Homo sapiens: one gene and its partners. The protein of the gene in region 1 interacts with the protein of each later gene in a pairwise test. Each region holds a gene or a part of one and is shown on either strand. Other genes may lie near its edges.

What was found. The genes of interacting proteins can lie anywhere in the genome.
Region 2: the proteins of FUNDC1 (region 1) and MTERF3 interact in binary tests that used the Homo sapiens proteins (3 or more experiments, as listed by UniProt).
Region 3: the proteins of FUNDC1 (region 1) and YES1 interact in binary tests that used the Homo sapiens proteins (3 or more experiments, as listed by UniProt).

What each region holds. Positions count from the first base shown.
Region 1 is NC_000023.11:44,523,135-44,525,893, reverse strand, and holds the end of FUNDC1 (FUN14 domain-containing protein 1), read left to right. Parts: intron 1-1,618; coding exon 1,619-1,696; 3' UTR 1,697-2,255; downstream 2,256-2,759. UniProt on the Homo sapiens protein: Integral mitochondrial outer-membrane protein that mediates the formation of mitochondria-associated endoplasmic reticulum membranes (MAMs).
Region 2 is NC_000008.11:96,258,610-96,265,472, forward strand, and holds the start of MTERF3 (transcription termination factor 3, mitochondrial isoform 1 precursor), read right to left. Parts: upstream 3,002-6,863; 5' UTR 2,892-3,001; intron 92-2,891; 5' UTR 82-91; coding exon 1-81. Other genes in the region: PTDSS1 (phosphatidylserine synthase 1), read left to right, coding at 3,432-3,610.
Region 3 is NC_000018.10:739,242-746,279, forward strand, and holds part of YES1 (tyrosine-protein kinase Yes), read right to left. Parts: intron 6,811-7,038; coding exon 6,707-6,810; intron 6,617-6,706; coding exon 6,467-6,616; intron 4,175-6,466; coding exon 4,019-4,174; intron 3,857-4,018; coding exon 3,677-3,856; intron 571-3,676; coding exon 494-570; intron 1-493. UniProt on the Homo sapiens protein: Non-receptor protein tyrosine kinase that is involved in the regulation of cell growth and survival, apoptosis, cell-cell adhesion, cytoskeleton remodeling, and differentiation.

The DNA.
Region 1 (2,759 bases):
AAAAATGTAACATGAGATAATAGTATTTCCTTTCTTTGTTAATTTTTTTTAGACAGGGTCTTGCTCTGTCACCCAGGCTGGAGTGCAATGGTGTGATCACAGCTCACTGCAGCCTCGAGCACCTGGGCTCAAGTGATCCTCCCACCTCAGCCTCTCAAGTAGCTGGGACTACAGGTGCATGCCCAGCTAATTTTTATATTTTTGTAGAGATGAGGTTTTGCCATGTTGCCAGGCTGGTCTCAAACTCCTGGGCTCAAGCAGCCTGCCTGCCTCAGCCTCCCAATGTGCTGGGCATTACAGGTTTGAGCCACCACACCCAGCCAGTATTTTCTAATATGCAGTTCATATTAATATTTTTCTACAAAATATCTTGTGTGGCTTTTTTTTTCCCAATTAAGAATTATATGCCAGGTACAGTAGTTCACTCCTGTAATCCCAGCACTTTGGGAGGCTGAGGCAGGAGGATCTCTTGAGCCTAGGAGTTTGAGATCAGCCTGGGTAAGAGAGAGAGACCTTGTCTCTACAGAAAATACAAAAATTAGAACGGTGGCATGCACCTATAGTCTCAGCTACTTGGGAGGCTGAGGTGGGAGGATTGCTTGAGGCTGTGAGACGTGATTGTGCCACTGCACTCCAGCCTGGCTGACAGAATGAGACCCTGTTCCCACTCACCCCCCCAAAAAAAATTATATATTGTTTTCGGTTATCATGTCTATGAAGTCTCATTTAGTCTTAAACAGTCCTTTCATCTGTTAATTTTATTCCCCCATCTTTCATGGCACTGACATTTTTGACACCTCTAGGCAGAATATCCCACAGTCTGGCTTTGTCTGATGGCTTCCTCATGATTTTATTCTGGTTAAACATTTTACCAAAGTAATTTGTTTTGGTTTTGATCCTGTACATTTTTTTTTCTGTTGGCTAAATGGACTATTAATAAATACCATTGTGCCTGCTGTGACAATTTATTAAATAATCTGTGTTAATAACTTGATGATGGGCCATTCATCTCTACCTTACAGGTAGATTTCTTTTTACTTGTGAGATCATTGCTGCCCATATACTTATTATCTCAATAGCCAAGGAGCTTACTGGGCATGACTGTGTTCTCTAGTCTCCTTCAATTAGTCAGGGACATTTCTGGGATCTTGCATGCTATTTGATACCTGCAGTAGTAGGTGCACAGGAATTTTTGCTGAATATTTATTGAATTGAGGAAAATAGCTGAAACTGCTACTTGGCTCTGGATTCAGTAAGAATTTTTTTTTGTGCATCTTTTTATTGTGGTAAAATAGTTATACAAAAATTTTACCAGTTTAACCATTTTTAAGCATACAGTTCAGTGGCATTAAGCATATTCACATTTTTCTGCAATCATTACCACTATTTCCAGAACTTTTTCATCATCCCAAACTCTGTGCCCATTAAACATTAATTTTCAGTTTCCCTCTCTCCCCAGCTCTTAATGATCTGTATTCTGCTTTCTGACTACTCATACGAGCAGAATCATGTAATATCTGTTCTTTTTTGTCTACCTTATTTCACTTTGCATAATGTTTTCAAGGTTCATCCCTGTTGTAGCATAATTAAGAGTATTTTTGTTTAAACTTTGTTTCAGGCAACAGAATTTATCAAGCAGAACATTGTGATATCCAGTGGATTTGTGGGAGGCTTTTTGCTCGGACTTGCATCTTAAGGACATGAATATTCTCCCATAACGGATTCAACTATGAGAAGAGAAGTGGCAGCAATAAGGCAGTCTCTCAAAAGTCATACTGCCAGAGTCTCTAGGGCAAGGAGAAACAACTAGCTGGACAATACTCAATTCACAACTTAGCATTTTGCCATCTGAAGCTTGGCAAACTAGTATCTGCTGTAAAACAACCTATATGGTATGTGAACCGTAGTATTCCTGAGCAAAACGTGGCTTTCATCGCTTTGTAAAAATTTGCATCTGTTTAGAAACTAGCCTATAAAATATCACCATTGGATGTAGATATGGAGAGAAAAGAAATATGTTGGGTTTATTGCTTAGCGAAATATTCTCTTTTTATTTAAATAAAATGTTCTTCATTGTGTTTTATGGTATGTGTCCATAATTTAAAATTCATGTTATAGTTTCAGTATTAAGGCTGACTTTTTTTTTTTAAGATATGTTTGCAATAAGTTAAAAAACTGTAATACCCTTTTGTGGAAAGCTTTAGAAATGATATAATTATTAAAGATATTAAACAGACTCTGCTGATGTAATATGATACCAATTTTTATGTTGTTTTTTTTCCTGGAGTTATTACTTTGTTATAAGTGTAATAATTGTACATTTCTTTTTTGTTTTTTTTTTTTTTTTGAGACAGAGTCTTGCTCTGTCACCCAGGCTTGGAGTGCAGTGGCATGATCTTGGCTCACTGCATCCTCCGCCTCCCAGGTTCAAGCGATTCTTGTGCCTCAGCCTCCTGAGTAGCTGGGAGTACAGGCACGTACCACCACACTTGGCTAATTTTTGTATTTTTAGTAGAGACGAGGTTTCGCCATGTTGGCCAGGCTGGTCTCGAACCCTTGACCTCAGGTGATCCGCCCGCCTTGGCCACCCAAAGTGCTGGGATTACAGGCATGAACCACCATGCCCAGCCATAACTGTACATTTCAAAAAAGGCTCTTCTGAGGAAATACTATAACATGTCTAAAGCTCTTTTTTCTTTTTTGATGTCTGTAGTTTAAAAAATATCTTCTTATATGTAAGCTTCTAATTTTCTTGTTTG
Region 2 (6,863 bases), on another chromosome or scaffold:
TGTGAGTTGTGCAGCATTAATGAGGCTCCTCAACTTAACTGAGTTAAACCATCTGGGTATCTGTTGGGCTGACAAAGCCATTTTTCTTAGTCTACAAAGGAAAGATATAACCGTCAAAAGAAGAGAAATTTAATTTACTTAAATGTTTAAAACGGTATTCAAACAACAAAAAGATAAACTGGAAATTATTTTTTTCTAATTGAAAGGTGTTTAAATATATATTTAGTCTAAAATAGTGAGATGTTTCTTATGTACAGGAAAAGCCAACAACAAGGCAATCTCAGTTACAAACCAACAGACAGGAACTTCTGAGTGGAAAAATAAAGATATACTTTACAATTTAAAAACAAAATGCAATGACACTGGTGTAAGAAAAATGCTTAAAACAAAAATCTGCAAATGTTCAAGTGACAGCAGACCTCACTAATCTGTTAATTTAATCATTTAAAGAGAATAAGCTGATGCAAATAAGTGTTCTTGAAATTTGGTGTGAAGGGTGTTTCCGCAGCACATTGCTGATCAAAGTAACACTGAATTATTCAAATGCATTTTATGTATATAAATTTGTCCCAAAATGAAAAAACAGAAATCTACTGTGTCCTAAACAAATCATCAAAATATTATCATTGATATACAGAACAGTGAAAGCAGTTTCTTGCTTCATTCTCAGGGCTGAACACTGTTGATTACTTCACAGATAAAGCTGTTCTTCCAAAGGGAATTGAACAAAACCAGTTTTGTCAAGTTTTGTTTCACTGTAGGAAAGGAGAAAAAAGCCTTCAAAAAGAAAAGGTCAAAACTAGTAACAAAACCAAGTGACAGAAATAAATAAGCAACCAGCAATTAATACCTGTATATTTTGACTGAAAAAGTAGTTTTCAAAAATATTTTTATCAGGAAAGGCTAGTGCTATGTTAAACTCCAGGAATATGAAGGGATTTTATATTTAGCCAGCTAATTAGAAAGGTAAATTTGATGCATATAATCTTACGTTAAATAACATTATCCATATAAAACACAGGATGGAGTCAGGATATAAGAAATGCTCAATAAATGTTAGCCATTATTATTGGTTACACAACCAAATACAAAAATTCTGCTGAATTAATTGCTGCCTACAACTTTATACTTTGTTTTTCTGCATACTGGAATTCAGCTTGTTTTATGCTCTAAATTAGACCAAATACTTGAGGGTCTAATCTTTTCTTGGAGATCTGTAGTTTTGGGAAGTTTGCTGAAAGAGATTTTACAAAAGTGAAAGTTTCCTTTCATTCTGCAATTATTTATTATTATTATTATTATTATTTTTTTTGAGACGGAGTTTCGCCCTTGTTGCCCAGGCTGGAGTACAACGGCACCATCTTGGCTCACTGCAACCTCTGCCTCCCAGGTTCAAGTGATTCTCCTGCCTCAGCCTCCCGAGTAGCTGGGATTACCCACGCCCGCTACTATGCCCGGCTAATTTTTTGTGTTTTTAGTAGAGACGGGGTTTCACCATCTTGGCCAGGCTGGCCTCGAACTCCTTACCTCAGGTGATCCACCCAGCTTCCCAAAGTGCTGGGATTACAGGCGTGAGCCACTGCGCTCGGCCCATTCTGCGATGATTTTAGAAAAGAAGTAAGTATTCACAATACCCTGCTGGGATAGGTGGTTTCTGTTAGATTTTGGTGGGAAATGGGACTCCAAATGTGCCAAGTTTTCCCTCAAACCTACAACATTCATTCTCTGCACGGTAGTCATAAGGGCACTAAATTGAAAGTCAGAAGACCTCGGTTGTGCTACCTTGACAAGGCTGTTTCTGGCAGCAGTCTAACAAAAGCAGCAGTCTAGCCCATGATGTGGGGGGTGGGGGTGGGGTCAATAACTATTCTTCAAATAATGCTTTTTTAAAAGGCTAGGGGTACAATAAGATGATTCTTAAGGCCCCTATCAGCTCTAACATTTTTTGACGTCTAAGCACTTCATCCTACTTCAAACTCCTGAAATCCCAAATTCATCCTGAAGCCTTTCCACACTCAATACCACTTAAACATCAGGAAGACTCACTTTCAAATTTCACCCCGTCATTAAAAGATCTTTGTGCATACAACTAATGTTTATCCTTGCATTTTTATTTACAAGTGCACTATCTTCTCCACATCCTTTCATTGCTGCCTACACATCTTAACAATTGATTAACTGTTCATGCACGAGAGCAGAGCTGGGTCTCATCCCTGGATCCATCCTTCCGGGGACTATTCTCCACTTTCCCAGAGCCTTGTACTGCTCTAATGTTTGCGGAATGGAAATAAATCAATGGCAAGTACAGTTAACTCACTTGCTTACACAGTATGCAAAAGCGGGTAGGGGATGTGCAGATGTGTATAAAAGCCCTGTAAGGTGGTAACCTGAAGTCTTCTAACAAGGTCCTTTCATCAGGAAAATTACAGAAAACCCTTAAAGAAACTGAAGTCTCTTAACAATTCATATATACTGTTCTCAATGAGTGCCTAGTGCTTCGCTAGAAAAAGGCACTGAAATAGAGTTCAAGATTTCTACCTACGAAATGCTATAAATGAAATCAGGAGAGAAAGGGAGGTTATGGGGGCAGCTTCCTAATAAAGGGTCTCTCAATACTTCCCAGGCCATTTTAGCCCACTTCAGTTCCCCAAACTTGCGCAGGAAGGCAGAGCCCCCTCCTGAGGCTTCTCACACTGCGCTAATTAGCCAGCATGGTTGAGTTTTCACTACATCAGCCAGGGAAAAACACAAAACAAAACCAATCACCCTCTACTGGGCCGCGAAAACCTAAAGGCCCTTGAGGCCCTGGGGCGCGGTCTGGACGCGGGTGCGCCGGAACCTGAACCCTCGCCAGGAGCGCGATCCTCGTGCTGGGGCAGCTCCTGCTTTACCTGTGGCGAGGCCTGCTTCCCGTAGCGGGTGACCCCGGGACCGACCAACTCGCTGGGCCGCACGTCCCGTCCCGCCGCGCCGCACGCCGGCTCCTCAGCCCGCCCTACACAGCGCAGCCGCGCTCCCGGGCCCACGTGGGCCGCGCCCGGAGTGGGCGAGACCATGTGCCGGGTTACGCGGGGAGACAGCGGGCTACGTGCTCTGAAAAGAGCCAGCCAGGGGCCCCGGCTACCCTTCTCCGGCTCGCTATTCCTCTGAAGTCCTGTGGACTTGGAGTCTGAAAATTCCTCGAGTGGTAGAGATGCCTCAGCTAGGATGACAGCGTGGGGACGGCCGGCGGCGTCCCCTGCCCCAGGCCGCGGTGGCGGCGCCGCGACCCCGCCCTCTCGCGCCTGTCCTTCCCTCTGCTCCCAGCCTTTGCTGGGCGCCAGACCCGGCTTTGCCGTCCGGCTATTAGCCTACTGTGGCTAGTCACCCCCGGGGTCCCGGCCTTCTCGGGCTGGGGCCGCCGCCACCGCGGCAGGACGGGGAGGCGGGCCATGGCGTCCTGCGTGGGGAGCCGGACCCTAAGCAAGGATGATGTGAACTACAAAATGCATTTCCGGATGATCAACGAGCAGCAAGTGGAGGACATCACCATTGACTTCTTCTACCGGCCGCATACCATCACCCTGCTCAGCTTCACCATCGTCAGCCTCATGTACTTCGCCTTTACCAGGTGGGGCGGCCCAGCCGAGCGGGGGGCGCGTCCAAGGGCTAGGGAAGAGGCGGGAGGGAGGGTGGCGGGGAGGGGGGCCCGGCATGGCTCTGGGTGAGGAAGTGGGCTGGCTGCTCCACGCACACGCACTGGCAGCCCGCCGCCCACGCGGCCCCTCCGCCCGCCCGGTGTCTCACAGTACGCTAGCCTGCTCCCCTACCCCTCAGTGCCCCTTCTCCATACAGCGCCTCCGGTTACACGGGGAACGCACGCGAGTCACCTAGCACGATCGCCCCCTCACCCACCGCACTCAGCATCGCTCCACACAACATCACGACGCGGGCCCCTCCTCTGCACTGCTCCAGCCTTCGTCCCTACCCAGCACACCGCATGAATCATGTCGTATGCACCACTTTCAGCACACACCGCTACACATACAAAGCACCCCAATCCACAGCGCCTGCAGGCACCATACACAGGCCCAGGACACAACCTAGATCCCTTCCTGTGGAACTCCGGTATTCGGCACTATCCGTAACGCACAAAAAATGCACATGTGTGCTGCATACACGGTCTTTCCTGTGCAGCACTTCCCGTATGCATTGCACACAAGTCATCCAGCATAACACTTCCCCCAGCCTCAAACACTACCATCTGTACCACGGCACAAACTGCCACTCTAAACACACACCTCACAGCGGACCTTTCCTTTCCAGCACAGCCCAATACCCATCATCTGTGTACATGGCTGCACAGACACCAGCCCGCCACACATCACGCGGTGCATACCCTGCTCACTCATTACCTAACATACGTGCTGAAATGTGATCTTGTCCAGCAATTTTAATGGTGCCTGGGGTATAGTAACTGCTGTGTGTTAAATGAAACACATAAACCTCACACAGCATAACACAACTCTCTTATTCCCTGGAAAACATACACACACATTCTAATATATACCGGTTCATAGGAGCTGCCCAGCCCAAATCTTGAACACACCTCATGTTAACTCTGGCACTGCGCCTGTGGCTCCTCATTCCTAACCTAGAGAACTAATTCATCCTTGGTTCATAAGGAGGTACACACCGTGGTTCCTACTTAGAATGATTTATACTTTCTGAATGAACCTCTTTAAAGAAAGGGAAGTCACACCTCTCTCACCATTATGGCTTAAAAGGCCAACTTAGAGTAGAGTAGTTTTTGAGCCACACTTTTGGTTTCAAAACTGGCTGTGTGTCCTTAATTAAGTTGCATAACCTTGCTCTGAGCCTCAGGGGCCACACTCGTAAAATGGGGATGAAATATCTACTTATATAGGGTTATGAAAATTAAATGAATGTGTGTGAATGCATTTAGCAGAGTCCCTGGAGCACAATGTACAATTCATGTCAGTTACTTCTCTCCCAGTATTTTTATCCAACAATCAAGGTTCTCTGTCAGGGTCAGCAGAACATGTGTAGGGATATATATATTGGGTAGTCACAAGGATTGAGAGAACTTCTAGTATTTGGGAGGGGGAGCAGTTAACGGATACTAAATGTATTGTGACATATGTGACAGCGCTGTACAACATAAAGGGAATTGTCTTCTACACAGTCGTTTGCATACACACACACAAGTGCCGGTGGTGCCTCCCTTAGGAATAACTGCAGTTTTTCAAATCCTCATAAAACTAATATCCTCCCACATCACACTTGTTCCTTACCTCTGGGATTCATTTGACTCTTGGTTCTTGTTATGTAAGTGTTTATCCATTTGAAAGAATCTACCTAAAGGTATAAAGCTTAAGTAACAATTGCTTACTCTTTAATGATTGAGGGATCTTGCCACTATTACTATAAAATCTGCTAAAGCTGTGCAGCAGGTGAAGACCAGACCTTTCCACAGTACCTGACCAGACATATTTCTAGCTTTGGAGAGAAATGAATCATGTCCCTAACTATGGTTACTTTCAAATACTTCATTATGTTGCCTGATTTTATCACTTAATAGCTGTGTGGCCACATAATTTTGCTAGGCCTCAGTTTCCTTATCTGTATGTAAAATGAAAATATCAATACATTAATCTGTCGGGATTATTTGTCATGAGGATTAAATTCATCTTTTTAGATAATCTGTTTAGCTCAGTGCATGGCAAGTATTAAGTGCTTAATAAACATTAGTGGTTATTACGATGTGATTTCATTGAATGCTACTGTCTTCTAATTTATATTTATTATTGAACGAGGATGTAGTATGCTCTGTAATTGAGAAGGATAAAAGCACTGGAAAAATGGACATTAGATAACATACATACCTGTTTGATGTTAACTTCAGTTTAACTTCATCTTAGGTGTGGGCTTGAAATAATGAAATTAGTGAGGGAGTTTCTCTGGAAATTAGAAAAATAATTATGGTATTTTGTTTTAAATAATGAGAAGCAAGAATGAGCCATTTGTTTCAGCCTTTCATTTTTAATATTATTCTAGGTCCTTTCAAAATAGGTTTCTCTTCCTCTTTTCTGATATAAAAAGTCACAATCTTCTGAAATTTCCTTTTACATCATATTCTGTCAAGGCAGTCAATAAATTGCAGCAGTGAAAGTATAAGAAATGAATACGAATTTTAACAGCTTGTCCAAAATAATAGAAGAACCATAATCTGAACTTCAGACTGTAGTCTCATCCAAAAATGTTAACAATTTTATTTCTTCCACTAATTTCATAAAGAGACAGAAATCACATAATGAAGAACTAATTAATAACAAGTTTCACTTTATATAAAATCATAAGCACCATTAATAGAATTCGTACTTACTAAATCTTACTCATTTTTTGTAATGATTTGTGACTTAAGTGGGGCATTACAATGATAGCTCTATATTCCTCCATAAAGACGGAAAGTAACGACTTCTTAAATGAAAATGTATCCTATGTTCTTTTGTAATGATTAACTCCAGTGCCTTATTATTTATTTTATAAGATTTTAGTTGGACAATTGTTCAGTGCAATTCTTTCAGTAAAACTTAAAAGATATGTCTTAAAGTTTGTTTTGCAAAGACTAGTTGTCTAAGAGAACGAGGAGATAGGATTCTTTTGGGATGTCATATAACCAGTATGTGAGAAACAGTACTTGGGTACTGTCACATGCTTCAGAGATCCAGCAAGAATTTAAAATTACAGAGGATTAGATACCTTGCACTGAAGTCTGAGACAAGTTTGGATTTGTCAAGTAGTTCTTTTGTTAGATGGCCCTTAGGTCAATTCCCTGTTAAACCATAGTATTTAAATATCTC
Region 3 (7,038 bases), on another chromosome or scaffold:
CTCATCTTTTGATACTTCATTAATCTGTATCATTAAGAGCTCACATTGGATTATCTCTGACGTTCCTGCCAGTTCTAAAATTCCATTATTGGCCAGGTAATCCCAATACTTTGGGAGGCTGAGGTGGGAGGATCCTTTGAGCCAAGGACTTTGAGACTAGCCTAAGCAACACAGAGAGATCCCTGTGTCTACAAAAAAAATAATTTTTTAAATTAGCTGGGAATGGTGGCCTGTGCCTGCAGTCCTAGCTACCCAGGAGGCTGAGGCGAGAGGATTGCTAGAGCCCAAGAATTCAAGGCTCTTCAAGCACGGAGCTATCAGTGCACCACTGCATTCCACCCTGGGTGACAGAATGAGACGCTGTCTCTAAAAAATAAAAAATAAAAATAAAATCCCACCATTTCACTACACATACTATAATATTCTGGTAAGATTATTCCACATTTTAATTTACACTTTTAATTCAAATGGATACATGTATATATACAGATACCTGAGCAGCCATATCAACCAGCTGTGGAAGCTTCAAATACTTTCCATCTCCTTCCTTAAGGAAATCTAATAAGCTTCCTGTAACAGACAGCAAGATATTCATAAAAAATAAGCAAATCTTATATTAGGATTGAAATGAATACTCCTCCACCCCAAATCACAACACAAAACTTCTTAGCTTTTCATTTTTTTTAAATTTTGTGCAGTTTTGCAGTTTCCAAATAATTATCTAGGTCCTAGAAGAGGTCTCTAAGCTGAAATTTTGAAAACTTCTGATAACACATGCAAAAAAAGAAAATGCATTAACTTTACCTGACAAGAGGCATTTTTTCCTCGCTTTGATCAATATCCCAATTCTGATTCAAAAAGTAGTATTAAATACTTACATATTTTTAAGTAAATCTGAATCAAGAATTCAGACAACTAGGAATATCTTGGGTGTGGTTAAAACTAAATATAGGTAGCTAAATGAGTCGCTGTGGAACTACTGCTGTGACCAAGCTCTCTCTCTGAAAACTACAAAGTACTATGAATAACAGCAAAGAAAAAGGCTAGAAGTCTGATTACGGCTTCACTATTATTTGTTAAGGCTTATAATCAAGAGAAAACATCACACAAAACCAAATTAAGGCACATTTAAAACATAAAAGTGGTCTATTCTCTTCAGAAGTAACAATGCTATGGAAGACAGAGGAAGGTTGAGGAATGGCTCTAGATTAAAGGAGACTAAATAGAAATGACAACTAAATGGAATGCCTGACCATAAACTGGATCGGGGAAGTGTAGTTGGTGGACTGGTCCAGAGCTAGGGAGACCAAATTCCAGGTCAAAGAGAAAACATGAAAAAATCATGAAAACAAAGAGCAGAACAGTGGGTTTATGCTGGAGTGCATGGGACAATGAGTTTGGACAGATTATAAAGGGACAAGTGCTAAGTGAATACCAAAATGAGGAATTAAAGAGTTTTAAAAATAGAAAGGACTTTTGTTATCTTGTATTCTAAATCTCTCCCGCCTGGAAATAATTGTACCCAGTGGTCTGACAACACAGAATTTTACCATGTTCTCCCAATTAAATAATTCTTAAAATTAATATACAGAGCTAAATGGGCTATTAGCCTTACCTTCATTATATTTCTTATGTTCCAATATCTTTTTTAATTGTTAAAGTCTTTATTTATTTGAAACGGAGTCTCACTCAGTCACCCAGGCTGGAGTGCAGCGGTGTCATCTTGGCTCACTGCAACCTCTGCCTCCCTAGCTCAAGCCATTCTCGTGCCTCAGCCTCCCGAGCAGCTGGAACTACAGGCACAAGCCACCACGCCCAGCTGTTTTTTGTATTTTTAGCAGAGACGGGGTTTCGCTATGTTGGCCAGGCTGGGATCGAACTCCTGACCTCAAGTGATCTGCCTGCCTCGGCCTCCCAAAGCGCTGGGATTGGAGGCATGAACCACTGTGCCTGGCCTGCTTCCAATATCTTGATTTAAACATCTTCCCTGTCCTTTTCTCCTTTTTTTTTTTTTCTTTTTTGAGACAGTCTCATTTTTTCACCCCAGATGGGAGTGCAGTGGCACAATCACAGCTCACTATGGCCTTAACCTCCTGGGCTCAAGCAATCCTCATGCCTCAGCCTCCTGAGTAGGGAATACATGTGTGTGCAACCACGTCCTGCTAATTTTTTTAGTTTTTGTAGAGATGGGGTTTCACCATGTTGCTCAGGTCAGCCACCATGCCTGGCCCTCCCTTCCCCTCTGGTTCATCTAATATACTCTTTGAAAGGGCATATTTGGGCTGGGTGTGGTGGCTCACACCTGTAATCCCAGCACTTTGGGAGGCCAAGGCAGGCTGATTGCTTGATCCCAGGAGTTCCAAACTAGCCTGGGAAACAGGGTGAAATCCCATCTGTAGAAAAATACACAAATTATCTATGTGTGGTGGCATGCACCTGTAATCCCAGCTACTCAGGAGGCTGAGATGAGAGGATCGCTTGAGCCCAGGGAGGTCCAAGCTGCAGAGAAATGTGACTGCACTCCACCCTGGGGGATAGAGTGAGGCCCCACCTCACAAAAAAACAAAAACAACAAACAAACAAGCAAACAAACAAAAAAATGTCATATTTGGCAACTGTTTGCAGTAGACATTCCTTCCAAAGAGCGCCAGGTGCTTTGGGTCTTTAGGTGTGTTCTGGCTATCAATTAATAGGCTGTATAATTTCTTAACTTTTGGTTTCAGTCCCCTTTTGAGGGGAAAAATTTTCCTACAGCAAATATGTAACTTGTAGTTGTCCTTGTCACCACTAGATGGAACTACATCATTGACCAAGACACACCACTGGAGAGGGTGACATAATTAGTGACTACTGTATATTATTGGTTCAAGAGTAAAAATAATAATAAAGCAGATGAAATCAAACACATAAAAATCAGGCCTGTCAGCTTATCTGCTGACTTACTAGTTCCTCTAAGTACCATCTGCACAGGGAAAAAGAGGAAAGAGTATCAATCTTCTCTTTATCCTCCCCCTAACTAACCCTGTTACTGAAGATCCCATCTTGTGGTCTAGAGTTAAGGAAAATGAAGAAACTTCCATTGAAGGTAGTGGGGAGGCCAGGCACAGTGGCTCATGCTGGTAATACCAGCACTTTGGGAGGCCAAAAAGGGAGGACTGCCTGAGGCCAGGAGTTCAAGACCAGCCTGGGCAACATAGTTGAGACCCCAGTCTCTATTTAAAAAAAAAAAAAAAAAGAAAGCAGTGGGGAAAAAAGTTCCTAGAAGTCCTGAATATAGGAATTATGTTTATATTAAAATGAGAAAACTAATTCATTTTAACTTTACCTTATTTCTTTGCTTTAGTACTAAAAATGTAAGTATCTTTCTGATTTTATCATTTTAATTAAATGTGTACAAACACTTTCTATTTTTCACCTTTCTAGCTTTTCCATTTGTTTTAGTCAAACTTAATTTCAAAATTAATTCAGCCTGCCTACTTTTCCTTTTAAACGTCATACTATCCTCTGGAATAACTGGATAATCACTATTCCATTAAACAAAGTGTCAGGTTTCTTCTATCCAAATATGTCTACATAAAAATCTTAAATTAGAAAACAGTATAAGTCTATATGCATACAAATCAAGACTCTTAAAAACATTATCAACACAAATACCTAAGGAGATACTAATACATACCTTTTGACATAAATTCAGTGACAATGTAAATTGGTTCTTCAGAAACAACAGCATATAGTGGAACAAGTTTATCATGTCTTAATTTTTTCATTATCTGAGCTTCTTGAAGGAAAGCTTCTGGCATCATTGTACCTGGTTTTAGTGTTTTGATTGCTACTTTCGTGGTTCCATTCCATGTTCCTAAAGAAATAACACATTTTAGGAATTTATATTTTAAAGGATTTTAGACCAAACTTCAGTGAACAGCACTTCTCTTAAATATTGAAACATATTTTATCATAAATTGTTGCACTTTAATCCACAGCTAAACAATGACAGAAAACAAAAATTCAGGCTTCTTACCCATCCACACTTCGCCGAAACATCCTTGTCCTAGTTTAACCTCTAGTCGCAAAGATTCTCGAGGGATTTCCCAAGCATCTTTTGCTAGACCTTGAGTCTGAGGTTTCACAGTTGGACACACAGTTGTCAACTTGTGGCATAAACCATCAGCATGTTCTAGATAAATGAATAAACTATACTGTAATATCAATTACAAAAATTAAGGGGCATATAGTGTATCAATGTTTTAAGTTTAAACTGTAGAAAAACAAAAACAGAAGTCCTTTCGAGTTTTACTCTAAAAGCACAAAACAAAAAGGGAGTTGTCCATAAGCAGCAAAACATGAAATATACATAAGTGAAACATTTTGTAAAATTTATTTTTAAGGCCGGGCAAGGTGTCTCACGTCTGTAATCCCAGCACTTTGGGAGGTTGAGGCAGATGAATCACGAGGTCAGGAGTTCGAGACTAGCCTGGCCAATACAGTGAAACACTGTCTCTACTAAAAATACAAAAGTTAGCCGGGCATGGTGGTGCATGCCTGTAGTCTCAGCTACTAAGGAAGCTGAGGCAGATGGATCGCATGAACCCAGGAGGCAGAGGTTGCAGTGAGCCAAAATTGCGCCACTGCACTCTAGCCTGGGTGACACAGTGAGATTCTGACTCGAAAAAAAAAAAAATATATATATATATACATGTTATTACTTACTACTTAGTATGTATATACTAATATATAGTAAATATATTGTATTTACTACTTAGTATGTATATACTAATATATAGTAGATATGTTAGTATATTTACTAAATACTTAGTATAACTTAAAATATATATTTTTTTAAGTTATTATTTACTAAATACTTAGTATGTTCCACTATTGTGCTAAATTAGCACTTCACAAGTATCTCATATATAAATGAAGCTTTGAAAACATACGCAACTTTCCCCTAAGGCCCTGCAGTTAGTAAATGGTAGAGATGGGATTCAAATCTAGGTCTGTCTGCTTCCAAAGTTCTGCCTTTGTACACTGGGTTTTATTAATTCTCAAAGAGAATGTTATCATTAAATGTTATTATCTAATAGCCACTAATTTGTAAGAGGCATACCAAAAAATCAAGGAAAAAGTTCATTTAGGATCATTTAGGAGATTTTTTCTTTTTTTTTTTTTGAGATGGAGTCTCACTCTGTCGCCCAGGATGGAGTGCAGTGGTGTGGTCTCAGCTCACTGCAACTTCCACCTCCCAGGTTCAAGTGATTCTCCTGCCTCAGCCTCCCAAGTAGCTGAGCCTACAGGTGCATGCCACCACGCCTGGCTAAATTTTTTTATATTTTAATAGATAGGGTTTTGCCATGTTGCCCAGGCTGGTCTCAAACTCCTGACCTCAAGTGATCTGTCTGTTTCGGCCTCCCAAAGTGGTGGGATTACAGGAGTGAGCCACCACGCCTGGCCTTTTTTTTTTTTTTTTTTTTTTTTTTAAGAGATGAGGTCTTGCTATGTTGCCCAGGCTGTTCTTGAACTCCTGGCCTCAAGTGATCCTCCTGCATCAGTAGTTGGGATTAAAGGCACAATCCACATGCCTAACAGGAGACTGATTTTTTTAAATAAGGGAGACACAAAGTCAGGGAACCCTAGATTCATAACAGCTTGACTTATGAATTCTGCTTATACAATCTTTCTTATTATAAATGAGACATGTTCTCTCCTATTCTCACTAAAATAACCACATAAATTCACATTGTGACAAAGGCAATTACAAGTGATGCCACTGCTTGGTAACATGCTTGATCAATGTCAAGATTGCTGGCTGACTTGATAGACTCAGTTTGCAGCTAGCTGTCATTGAAGACATTACCATGGAAACATCCCCTCTCCTAGTATTAATCATGTAAAGACTTTCAGGTGCATTCATATGCCAAATTGGTAATGAAAAATTTTGAGACAGAAGATTCTAATATTAAATACCTTCAGAGGTCCTTGAAAGACAAAAATGTCTATAATTGCTATAGGTTAATTTTCTAGGATAAGAAAAATGCATCGTCAGACCAAATTTCACTGGATTTATACTTTAGGAAAGCTTATGCGATCCAGCCCATGCAGAGGAAGGTAATCCTTCTGACATAGCTTTTTCTGTTACCCAATGTTTAGTTTTACTTACTAAGTGCCCATAAATATTTGCTTTTAGGTTTATTTTCATAAGGTACATGTGGTGAAATGAACTCCAATGTAAATACTATGCCAGTAAGATATAAGGACCCAAATGATGAGAGTCTATTAGCACATTATCTGAGTAGCACAATGCAAGTACTAAGTATTACCTGTTCCTCCCTTTAGAATACAACAGACATTTATTGGGCATGTATTATGTGTAAATAAGTGTGTTAAATCTTAAGAGAAATGAGGATATGGATTTTGTCCTCATAAACTAGAATATGAAGAAATAATTTTTACCTTTGAAATATTCACATACCTGTGTAGTGTTTCACCAATTTCTGCAGAGTATCAAATTGTGCTCTGGTTGTGATATAGTATCCACCATTGTCAAGTTTCCTAATTTTGTAGTGTTTCACATTGTCACCCCTTATCTCATCCCAATCACGAATAGAAAGGGAATAAGCACCTGGGTGAAAAATAAATACTTTCACTATATCTTTCTCAAAATACTGCCCCAAGAAATTTTATACTTATACTAATATAACAATATTCATACCTTTAGTTGTTTCACTCTCTCTTACTAAGAAAATACCTCGTTGATTTCCAGGATTCAAAAGTAATCTTTCAGCATCTTTTCTCCCCATTTTGCCAAAATACCATCTGGAAAAAAATTAAGTGTTTTGAATTGAAAAGTATGAGGTTCAGAAAAATTATACAGAAGTGTCAGTAAGAATGGACTGGGATAGGTTTGGACGACAAAGAATAGCTAGAGAACATGGCTCAAAATACAGGAAAATGTAAGAGTTTTATTGATTAAATAGTAATATCACAAATATTACTGTTAGAATATACTCTTACAGTATTTCTATATATTAACTACTCAATGTG